4 separate regions of the Homo sapiens genome follow, and regions 2, 3 and 4 are each linked to region 1. The links come from fine-mapping of genetic effects on gene expression. A gene starts in region 1. Each other region holds a variant in brackets. All regions are shown on one strand. Distances are from middle to middle.

The links. PIP is the estimated chance that this variant, and not a neighbour inherited with it, causes the effect.
Region 2: its variant is fine-mapped to the expression of PCID2 in whole blood (TOPMed, PIP 0.95).
Region 3: its variant is fine-mapped to the expression of PCID2 in whole blood (TOPMed, PIP above 0.99).
Region 4: its variant is fine-mapped to the expression of PCID2 in whole blood (INTERVAL, PIP above 0.99).

The regions. Positions count from the first base shown.
Region 1 is chr13:113,207,331-113,209,982 of GRCh38, reverse strand. It overlaps PCID2 (PCI domain containing 2), which reads left to right and starts at 1,314. Exons shown (of 14, transcript NM_001127202.4): 1 at 1,314-1,384. The coding sequence starts at 1,349. CUL4A (cullin 4A) reads right to left here and starts at 370. Exons shown (of 20, transcript NM_001008895.4): 1 at 208-370; 2 at 1-10. The coding sequence starts at 355. RefSeq lists silencers at 1-114, 175-504, 605-874, 1,135-1,424 and enhancers at 959-1,608, 1,609-2,259.
Region 2 is chr13:113,234,342-113,237,024 of GRCh38, reverse strand. CUL4A (cullin 4A) reads right to left here. Exons shown (of 20, transcript NM_001008895.4): 8 at 1,880-1,962; 9 at 135-202. Among named protein-coding and RNA genes, the nearest start is that of CUL4A, 26 kb to the right of the region's middle. The variant C/T (reference allele first, on the strand shown) is at 1,375.
Region 3 is chr13:113,174,838-113,177,520 of GRCh38, reverse strand. It overlaps a transcript of PCID2 not described here. Among named protein-coding and RNA genes, the nearest start is that of PROZ, 18 kb to the right of the region's middle. The variant A/G (reference allele first, on the strand shown) is at 1,141.
Region 4 is chr13:113,154,792-113,157,474 of GRCh38, reverse strand. It overlaps LOC124903216 (a long non-coding RNA gene), which reads right to left. Exons shown (of 4, transcript XR_007063880.1): 1 at 2,610-2,683; 2 at 2,360-2,418; 3 at 1,595-1,658; 4 at 865-945. Among named protein-coding and RNA genes, the nearest start is that of F10-AS2, 2.1 kb to the right of the region's middle. The variant A/G (reference allele first, on the strand shown) is at 1,603.

The DNA of each region.
Region 1 (2,652 bases):
CGAGGTCTGTCTGCAGGGCGGAGGGAGAGCGGGCGGCTCAGGGCGCGCCGCGAAGCGCCCCGCGTAGCCACCCCCGACCCGGCCGGCGCCCCGGCGCCCCCGCTCCCGGGGCCCGCACGGATCTCGGGGCCTTCCCCCCAAGTCGGGCGGGGTCTCGTGGGGTCCCCGCCCGGGGCGCCTGGCCCTCGACCCGGCCGCCGCACCCACCTCGGAAGTTCTTGATGACCAGCTTCTTGGAGCCGCCCGCGCCCCCCGGCTTGGCGGGCGCGGCGGCCAGGGCCGCGGGCTTGGTGAGGCCGTTGGTGCGGCCCACGAGCGCCGAGAAGCTGCCCTTCCGCGGGGCCTCGTCCGCCATGGCTGGGCCGGAACCGCCGCGCCCCGCCCCGAGCGCCGCCGCCCGCCGAGCTCCGCTCCGCCCGCCCCGGTCCGCGCGGCCTCCGCCCCGTCCTCCTCGCGCGCCCCGCCCCGCCCCGCCCGCGTGCCCGAGCCCAACCGCCGCCGCGCCCGGCTACTCCTGAGGGCTTAGGAACGCGCGCCGGGAATCCCTCCTGAGGGATCGGACTCCCCCTAAGAGATTCGGACACCCCCTCCTGGCTCGAGGGCGCGCGCCGGGACTCCCGTCCTGAGGGATCGGGACCCTCACCCCCGGCTCCGGGGGGCGCACCGAGACCCTGCCCCCAGGGCTCCGGGCACCCCCTCCTGGCTCGGGGATGCGTGCCGCGGGCACCCCTCCTGAGGGGATCGGGAGCCGGGACACCCTCCTGAGGGCCCCGGGGCGCGCGCCTCCTGAGGGCTCGGCACCCCCACCCCGGGCGTGAGACCACCTCGAGGGCTCAGGGGTGCGCGCCGGGACGTGCCCTAACTCCTGCAGGCTCGGGAGCGCGCGGCGGAGGCACCTTATGAGAGCTCGGGAGCGCGCGCCATGTCCCTCCCCCTCCCCCTCCTCGGGCGCGCGCGCCCCGAGGCCCTGGCCCAGCCAGGCGCGGAGGGTCCTCCGCGGCCTGGTTTTCACAAGGGGCAGACGAAGGGTCAGCGCAGTGAAAGGCAGTTTAGCCGTGGGGCTGTCCTCGCCACTGGACCCCAAACCCCTCAGCCCGGGCGGGCCCGAACACACAATCAGAGCCGCTGGCGTCCCGGCTGAGAGGACGGGGCCCCGGCAGAAAGACCCCGGGCCCCCTCAGCCCGAGCGCGTCGCCGAGCCGGTCCCCAGGTTCTCCCTCCGGAACCAACCTGCGCACCCGCGGCGGGGCCGGGGGCGCCAGGACCCAGACGGACCGAGGGCCGGAAGTGACGCCAGCTGGCCCGCTTGAGGCGTAGGGGGTGGCGCTCTCCGTTCGGCGGCGCTCCCATGGCGCACATTACCATTAACCAGTACCTGCAGCAGGTGGGTCCTAGCCGGGGAGCGCGCGGCGGCGTGGTTGGCCCTCGGCGTGTTCCGTGTGTCCCCTCCTGCCTTGGACCCTCAGGCCTTTTCCTTTCCCGCCTCGCCACCCTTCTTCCGTTCGGGTCCCCGGCGGGCAGCCGCGCGAGCCGAACAGCGGCGGCCGGGACTCGGGAAGGCGGCCCGAGTTCTCCCCTGCAGGGCCGCCGTGGGGGCCGGGCGGTGTCCGTGGATCGCGGAGTCGTCGCGGTGTAAGTAGACGCGGCGGTCCCAGGTCGCTGCCCTCACTTGCTGGCACGTGTGGCCGCGCTCCCAGGCGGTCCGAAGGGCCTGCGGGCCACGCCGAGGGCCCGCTGTGGGCGGTGCTGTGTCGGATGGACGCTGTTTCCCAGCAGGATGCGGGATGAATTCGGGGACTCCAGGAGGCGATGGAGGAGTAAGCGCGAGGCTGTGGCCGTGCTGCAGGCCGGGCTCGTGCCCCTCGTCCTCGCTGTCGTTTAACGCCCTTCACTCTCCGAGCACAATGCACACTTCATATCGCTCGGTACATGCGTCTGACAGATGTTGTTCAACAGCTTGTAAGTAGCAGAAGCACAGTTAAAAGATGGACACTTGTAAAGATTCAACGCATATTCTTTCCACTAAACTATGCCTGTCTTCAGAACCAGCACTGTGGTAACAGGGATAGGAAATATAGGGAATGGATTTTTAAAATATTTGAAGGAAACATTACCAAGACGTGGTGAATAAGAATGGGTGGGCTGAGGGACACGGAGGAGTTAAGAATGATTCCCAGGCTTGTAATCTGGGAAAAAGATGAATAGAGTGGATTTGGAGGGAGAAATAAAGTTTTGGGCATGTTGAGTTTGAGGTGTCTGTTGACAACTGGGTAAAGATACGTACTTGATAGCTGAAAAGTCTGACATGATTGGGCCCAGCAGTTGCTTGGTTAATTGAGAAAACTGGTTAAAACAGGAATCACGAAGAAATGGATGTATGTTTTTAACTTAAAACATGAAAGTATACATTCACTTGCCAATTTTTTTTTTACACCACTTACCTCAAGTTCTATACTTGCCAATCTTTTGATGTAAGCCCAGGGCCTTTTCTTTAGGCTGTGTCTGTTTTGGCCTAATCTTAGCAGACTTAACATTTTCCAATATCAGTTTATTTAAAGTTAAACAAGGATATAGGCATTTAAGAACCAATTTGATACGATTATCTTTAGAATTTTCTTAATCTTTTACAATTTTTCCCCCATACCTAATTAT
Region 2 (2,683 bases), 27 kb before region 1:
AGAAAAGATTTTTAATGACTGTCTTATGAAAATAACAAACGTCCTAACACTGCTATTTGTAATGCCCCCTTTACTTTCCTAATGAACTAAGGATAATTGTTCAGTTTAATTTGCACAAGAGTTAGGAAATCTACCTTTCTGCAGAATTGCTGTTAAATGTTCTCCTAATAGCTGTTTCTCCACACAAGCAATCAGTGGTTTCCTATATAAGGTAAAAAGAATAAGCGTTAGAAGTAAAGTTTAAAGAAGAGACTGGTTCTCTGCAAAAGATGGGGGCATTTGTCTATGACAGATGCAGTCTAGAGGCAATCAGAAACGGAAGGTTAAGAACATTTCCTCATGCAAACGGACGACGACTCCTGTTGCTAATGACGCTGAAGGAAGCCCTTTCTAAAAACCACCTACTGAACAGCACAAGCAGGCCCACGGGCGGGCCCAGGGAAGCAGGGATGCTTCTGCGTTATTCCAAGGATTGCTGATTTTAGCCATCTTCCCAAGCCTTCATTTCCAGTTTATAAGGAACGTTTTAATGCACCATCTTACGGAGAAGGGCAGAGCCGACATTCCGCCTTCTGCTTCCTACACAGGCAGAAAGGGCTCAGGGAAGCTGTGTGTGACCTGCACACCCTGGTTGTGGGGCTTCGCTGTGGCTGCCGCTCTCTCCACTATTTCCCCCGGACTTCCCTGGCTGCTGCTTCCCAGTCTCCCGGGGGCTGCTCTTCTGCTCCCAGTTGGAAGGAAGCACAACATGGCCCCCGAGCCACCCTGGCCTGCCTCGAGATCCTGGATTTCCCACAGGCTCCTCCAACTCCACACGTCTAAGTGACCAAATCTCTTTTTCTGCACCCTCTCTGTTTTTGTGCTGGATTCTGTCAGAATCCTTCCCCTTTCCGCACCTTACTGAGTCCAGTTCTGCACACCATATCATTTTCATCTCTCCTCCTGTTTTCTCTGCTGAGTCCTACCAAGTCCTGTTCTGCACATCTGTACATTTTATCATTCCCTACTGGGTCCAGTTCTGCACACTGTATCATTTTCTTTTTTTTTTTTTTTTGAGACGGAGTCTCGCTCTGTCGCCCAGGCTGGAGTGCAGTGGCGTGATCTCGGCTCACTGCAAGCTCTGCCTCCCGGGCTCATGCCATTCTCCTGCCTCAGCCTCCCAAGTAGCTGGGACTATAGGTTCCCGCCACCACGCCCGGCTAATTTTTTTGTATTGTTAGTAGAGACGGGGTTTCACCATGTTGGTCAGGATGGTCTCGATCTCCTGACTTTGTGATCTGCCCACCTCAGCCTCCCAAAGTGCTGGGATTACAGGCCTGAGCCACCGCGCCCAGCTGCACACTGTATCATTTTCATTTCTCTCCCTTGCTGTCC[C/T]CTCTGCCTCTGTCCTTGCCTCCCATCATATGGACACACTGTGCCTGACACACACGCTCACATAATCTCTCCCTTTTTGTTTCCCTAGCTACTCATCAACCTCAGGTTTGCAGGAAAAAAACATAAGATGAAAAGAGAAAATTGTGTGACAGCACCATAAATAAAATTAAAGCGATATAAAATGTGTAACAGAGAATGCACAATCAAAATAACCTAATATTCAGTGATACTCCATTAACATAAATAGACCGTCTCAAAACTCAAAGATGCCAAGTATCTCAGCAAGATTTACTCTCTTTAGACGTAACTCATGACAAGGCACTGGGTAAAAACTGTAATTTGTGAATGCCAAATAATGACAAATAACAAAGTAAAATATGCTAGGTGCAAAAACACTCTTAGTACTGAATGAATTGACAAAGACACCCTTTATTTCAATAACCAGCCAGGAGAACCTTCCAGCCATGGTGAAGATACGAACGCTCAGCGAGCAAACGGTACTTACTGTGTGCTGTGGTCCAAGTAAGTGATTACTCTGTCTCCCTCTTCCTCTAAGCGTTTACTTACATGGTTAAGATATTCTGGAACCTTACAAACAAAACAATTAAATGTATCAGTAACAAAAAGAATGTCGACACTATCCAAGAAATTGAGATTTTGTTTTCCTTACATGTAATTTTTTTAAAAAGCAGAATACATATTCAAGCCAAATATTAACACAGATTAACAGGGAGGGAGAGGTAGGACGGAAATGTGTGTGGGGGACATGGAGAAAGGACGCTGATATTAACATCCATCCTACAACAGGGCCCAGGCTGCACTTCTCTTTCGTCCCTGTGCACCACCAAGTTTCGGGGTCTGTGCACACCCTCCTCCCATCCCCAGGGCCCACAGGGAGCTGAGCCTCACTTGGTAGGAGGATGAGGTGCTAAATGGCAACCCTGCCCCGCACAGCTGGGTCAGCAAAAGCAAGTCAACAAGGTGGTTGTTCATTTGGGGGACACCAAACAACACGGTTGCAGGAGACCTCAAAGTACGCCCATGTTTCCCAAGACAGTGCGGGAAAGGCCTGAGGCTCTGCTGGGGTAGCTGCAGCTGGGCTCAGTATCTGACATGAAACTTCCTCTGCAAAGCCAGAATGAAGGAACCAATGGCTAAGGTCCATTCTGGCAGTAGCACGCACCATTTGGGTGACAGTCTATGGGGCAGGTTCCTTTATGATTTTGCTCTGGTATCTGGAAAGGTGATTAAGTTTTTTGGGTTCCTATTACTACTACATGTTTTTTCGCACAGCTTTTTTTGGGAAAAT
Region 3 (2,683 bases), 32 kb after region 1:
TAGCCTTCCTTAACATACTCAGAAGCCTCCACTCTTAGGCAAAATCAAACACAAAGCCGATTTTATTTTATAATAAAGTGTAGATGCCGGGCGTGGTGGCTCACGCCTGTAATCCCAGCACTTTCAGAGGCCAAGGCAGGCAGATCACCTGAGATTGAGAGTTGGAGACCAGCCTGACCAACATGGAGAAACCCCGTCTCTACTAAAAATACAAAATTAGCCGGGCGTGGTGGCGCATACCTGTAATTCCAGCTACTCAGGAGGCTGAGGCAGGAGAATCGCTTGAACCCGGGAGGCAAAGGTTGCAGTGAGCCGAGATCATGCCATTGCACTCCAGCCTGGGCAACAAGAGCGAAACTCTGTCTCAAAAAAATAAATAAATAAAAATAAAAGTGTAAATACCTCGTGTAGCTTACCGAGTGCTACACTGAGAGTGGAAACTGAAGGGCTGCGTGGACGCTGAGGCATGGCTGCCCCTGAGCGCGTCCCTTCGGCACCACGGCGAGGTTGACAGTCGCTAAGTTGGGCCACTCACATTGGGCTGTTGGGGCTGCCATCACAGAATACCACAGGCAGCTTAAGCAACAGGAATGTATTTCCTCACAGTTCTAGAGGCTGGAGGTCTGACTGAGATGGGGTTGCCAGCACGGTCGGCTTCTGGGGAGGGCTCTCTTCTGAGTTGCACACTTAAGAATAAGGTGGTATTCTTGCTGTGCTAGAGATGGTACAGATAGAGATGACTCTCTCCCTCCTTTTTTGAGACAGGACCTCACTCTGTCACCCAGGCTGGAGTGCGGCAGTGCAGTCAGTGCTTACTGCAGCCTCGACCTCCGAGACTCAAGTGATCTTCCCTCCTCAGCCTCCCAAGTAGCTGGGAGCACAGGTGCATGCCACCACACCCAACTAATTTTTTTATTTTTTGTAGAGACAGCGTCTTGCTAATATTGCACAGGCTGGTCTGGAACGCCTGGGCTAAAGCAATTCCCCCACCTCGGCCTCCCAAAGTGCTGGGGTGACAGGCATGTGCCACCACACCCGGCTCTCTTCCTCTTATAAGGCCACAGTTCTGTTGGGTTAGGACCTCACCCTTATGACCACATTTAGCCTTAGTTACCCCCTGAAGACCTTACCTCCAGATAC[A/G]GTCACACTGGGGCTAGGACTTCAATGTAAGAAATTTGGGGGACACAGTTTAGTCCCCAGCACTGCCATTTTTCAGACTATGCACATTTCCCCGTTTATAAAAAATTTACTAAAGAAGAACACAAACTATAAGAGCTCATCTTTGCAAAGTTACTGCATTTGAAAGCTGCTTGTTCAAGGAGAGGCTATTCTACAAAGTGTGAATCCCTCTTTCTCTCTCTCCGGGCCGCGCGGCGCAGGACTCACTTTGTGTGGCTCCTTCCTCAGGTTCCCCTGGATGCAGGAGCTGCCCCAGGGCTTCAGCAGCACTCCTTAGCTCGCTCCTACATCTGCAGGTCTGCAGTTTCTTCCGGGCTGGGCGGGGAAGCTTGTGGGCTCTTCTGGGGCCCGAATGGGCCTCTTTGAAGGTGACTCATTCCCGTGTATTGGCCCGGGCTCTCACCTGGAGCTCAGCAGGGCTGTGGGTGGGCTCCCCTGTTTCTCTCCACACGTAGGGAGCTGGATTCTGGGAGCGCAGATCCCAGTAGAGCCAGGGAAGCCAGATCTCTTTTATGCCCTGCTCTCCTAAGTCACACCCGGATTCCAGCCGTGGACTGCCACACGTACACGCGAGAGATGAATGCACGAAGGCAAGCGCCTGTGCCTGTGGAGTTCATGCCAAGGATCCTCTTGACCTACGTAGCTGCTCCCCAGCAGCAGCAAGGTCCTCAGCGCTGGCAGTCGTGACAAGTGCCTCCTATGTCCTGTGGGGCAGACACGGAGCAAACTCATGCCGGCGGAGGCTTTGGGCGCGCATCTGTTTTCTAGCTACCCATGTGTCCAGTGGGGCCCCGTTCTCTTGCAGTGTTGGGTACGGAAATCTGATCTTCCCTGCTGCTCTGCATGGGCCTTGAACATCCTTCAACTTTTGACTTAAATGATTTTCTTGCAGTAATTTGAATATTGGAATTTCTGCCAGCATACCTGAATTTCATTCTGGATGTAATAGCGGTGGAAAGCTCAGGTTTGTCAACATTTCTGGGTAACGTATTGAACCGTCCATAGTGACACCTAAAGTCAAGGATTGATACTTTAAGGTAATTGGATGGTTATTCTTAGCGATGAAAGAAACAACCTCAGTGTAGGTGTCCTTACGTTTACCTCTTGGTGTTCAGGCCTCTGTCAGTTCGTTCTCACGCTGCTATAAAGAACTGCCCGAGACTGGGTAATATGTAAAGGAAAGAGGTTTAATGGACTCACAGTTCCACATGACTCGGGGGACCTCAGGAAACTTACAATCATGGCGGAAGGGGAAGTGAGCATGAGCAAAACTGCCACTTTTAAAACCATCAGCTCTCGTTAGACGCCCTCACTGTCACGAGAACAGCGTGGGGGAGCCGCCCCCGTGATCCAATCACTTCTCCACACGTGGGGATTACAATTCAAGATGGAATTTGGGTGGAGACGCAAAGTCAAGGCCTGTGTCCAGCATGGCAGCATTCAAGTCCACGGGCGTACACATGGGCATGTATCAGTGTGTTTGCATGGATTCAAATATTGGACT
Region 4 (2,683 bases), 53 kb after region 1:
GGAAGCACGTTTGCAGTCTGGATGCTTCAGGAAGGGAAAGCTGATGGGATTCATGATGAATTGTGTCGGGCAGCACGGCTCCAAGGTTTGGGCTGAGCGATTGGGAGGATGGCAGTGCGTGTGCTGAGACGGCCAAGCTCCAGGAGGGCAGAGGGAAGCGAGGTTTGGCAAATTTGAGGTGTCTGTGGGATGTCCAGGTGGAGACAGGAGTGGGCATCCGAGAAGCTGGGACTCACAGTGGAGATTCAGGTGGTAACAGATGAAATGACAGCATTGTCAGCATATAGATATTGTTCGATTGAATGACACTCAAAGGTGGCAAAACTCAATGAAAGGATTCTAAATACAATTTTGTTAAAGTGGGAACAGAAGAAAACTAAGAAGCTGACACCCTTGATTAAGAGGGCATGCCCGCAAATACACTGAAGTTGTGAAGTTTGCTTTAAAAAGCTGGGAAAAGAAAATAAAGTTTATCTTTAGTGAGTGAGTTAAAATAATTTGAAAGCCAGAAGTTGATTGTATAGGATAGCTCTTGGGTGAATTGCACCAGCCTGGCAATCTACGTGGCCTTCACTTAAGAAAAGGTGCCTTTTTTTGTGTGAAAATGTATTCCCACATGGAAATTTACATTAAAAATACTTCTGCTGGATAGTTTAAAAACCATCAATAGCTGCCTAAAAATGGAAAGGCAGACAGGGACATACACATTCGATCAATAAGTGTTAATTAAGCACATCCTATATGCCTGACATGGGTATCTGAGCTACAACCTCTTCCCTCATGGACCATTTTAGTCTGTTGGGGCTGCTGTAACAAAACACCTTAGAGTGGGTAATTTACGATAAACAGAAACGTAGTGCTCACAGTTCTGGAGGATGGGAAGTCCAAGATCAAGGCTCCAGTAGACTCAGTGTCTGGTGACGGCCCATGATTCATAGACGTGTCCTTGGATGGTGGAAGGGAGGAATGTGGGTGCTCCCTGGAGCCTCTTTTGGGAGGGCAGTCATCCATCCATGAAGGCAGAGTGCCTCCCAGAGGCCCCACCTCCTAGTACTATTGCACAGGGGGTTAGGTTTCAACGTGAGTTTTGGGGGATGGTTTGGCTCTGTGTCCCCAACCAAATCTCACCTTGAATTGTAATAATCCCCACAGGTCAAGGGCAGGACCAGGTGGAGGTGATTGAATCATGGAGGTGGTTCTTGTGATAGTGAGTGCATTCTCACAAGAGCTAATGATTTTATAAGGGGCTTCCCCCTGTGATTGACACACATTTTCTCTCTCCTGCCACCCTGTGAAGAGGTGCCTGCTTGCCATGATTATGTTTCCTGAGGCCTCCCCAGCCATGTGGAACTGTGAGTTCATTAAACCGCTTTTCTTTATAAATTACCTAGTCTCAAGTATTTCTTCACAGTGACATGAGAACAGACTAATACAGGAAGGCATCAACATCGAGGCCACAGCTGTGATTGACTGTGTTGTACGTGGACTGACCGTGTTGTATGTGGTGATTTAATTTTCTCATCTGCCTTCTCAAAGATACCACCTTTGGACCAAAAATTCTACAATAATAAATTGTCCAAACATTAAGATTCACCTCGTTCT[A/G]CTCATCTTCCTCATCTCTCATATGAATAATCGTTCTTCTGTCACCCTCTTCTGTTCTGAAAAACAAACCAACCAACATTGGGACACTTTTTCCATTGACTGGTTTACTTTCCTTCTGTATACCTGAGGAGAATCTTCCTTCCTTTGGGGTCTTTGTCGTGTCCTTCAGATGTTGGGGTGTCCTCTGTGGGGGTCCCCAGCTTAAATCAACTGACCCCACAACTTTGTGTGGAACCTGAAATGAGCAGCCTATGGAGAACCTGGTCATTGAATACTTAGATCTTGCCGCAGTCCCTATTTAAATACCTGTTCAATCAACTCTGGGACCTATGTTTTAGATTTCAACATCTCTGAATTGGCCTGTTCCCTACAGCCAATGTTCTAATGTCAGCCTGGACAAGGCCGAGTTCTTCCTGAAAGGGGTTGTGCTTTATGTTGCCCCCTGGGGGCACTGCCACTTTGCAATCCCTTTAAATACATTTTTTTGTGTGAGTTTTGGGAGCCCATGTGAATAGTGTAAATGTATTGCAAAGCTGGTTCCTGGCTGGCCTGTGGTTTAGATTATCTGAGCTTCCCCCTCTTGCCTCCAGGCTGAGCTGACCCACAGCTAATTTGGGTATATGCTCTTTCTTTCAGGTTCATCAATAATGGTGCGTCTTAGATTCACAGAGTAGAGTGTGGTCTAGTCCACTTTGTGGTGCTGTAACAGGATATCTGAGACTGGGTAATTTATAAAGAACAGAAATTTATTTCTTACAGTTCTGGAGGCTGGGACATCAAAGGTCCAGGGGCCCCCATCTGGCGAGGGCCTTCTTGCTGCGTCATCCCATGGTGGAAGGTGGATGCGCGTGAGAGAGAGAGAGAGAGAGAGAGAGAGAGAGAGAAAGGGGAGAGAGGAAGGGGGCCAAACTCATCCTTTTATTCCAAAATAACGAACCCACTCCTACAATAGTGGTATCAATTCATTCACGTGGGCTCTGACAATGAATGCGTCTTAAAGGTCCCACCTCTCAACACTGTTGCCTTGGGATTAAGTTTCCAACACGTGCACTATAGGGACACATTCAAACCACAGCATGCT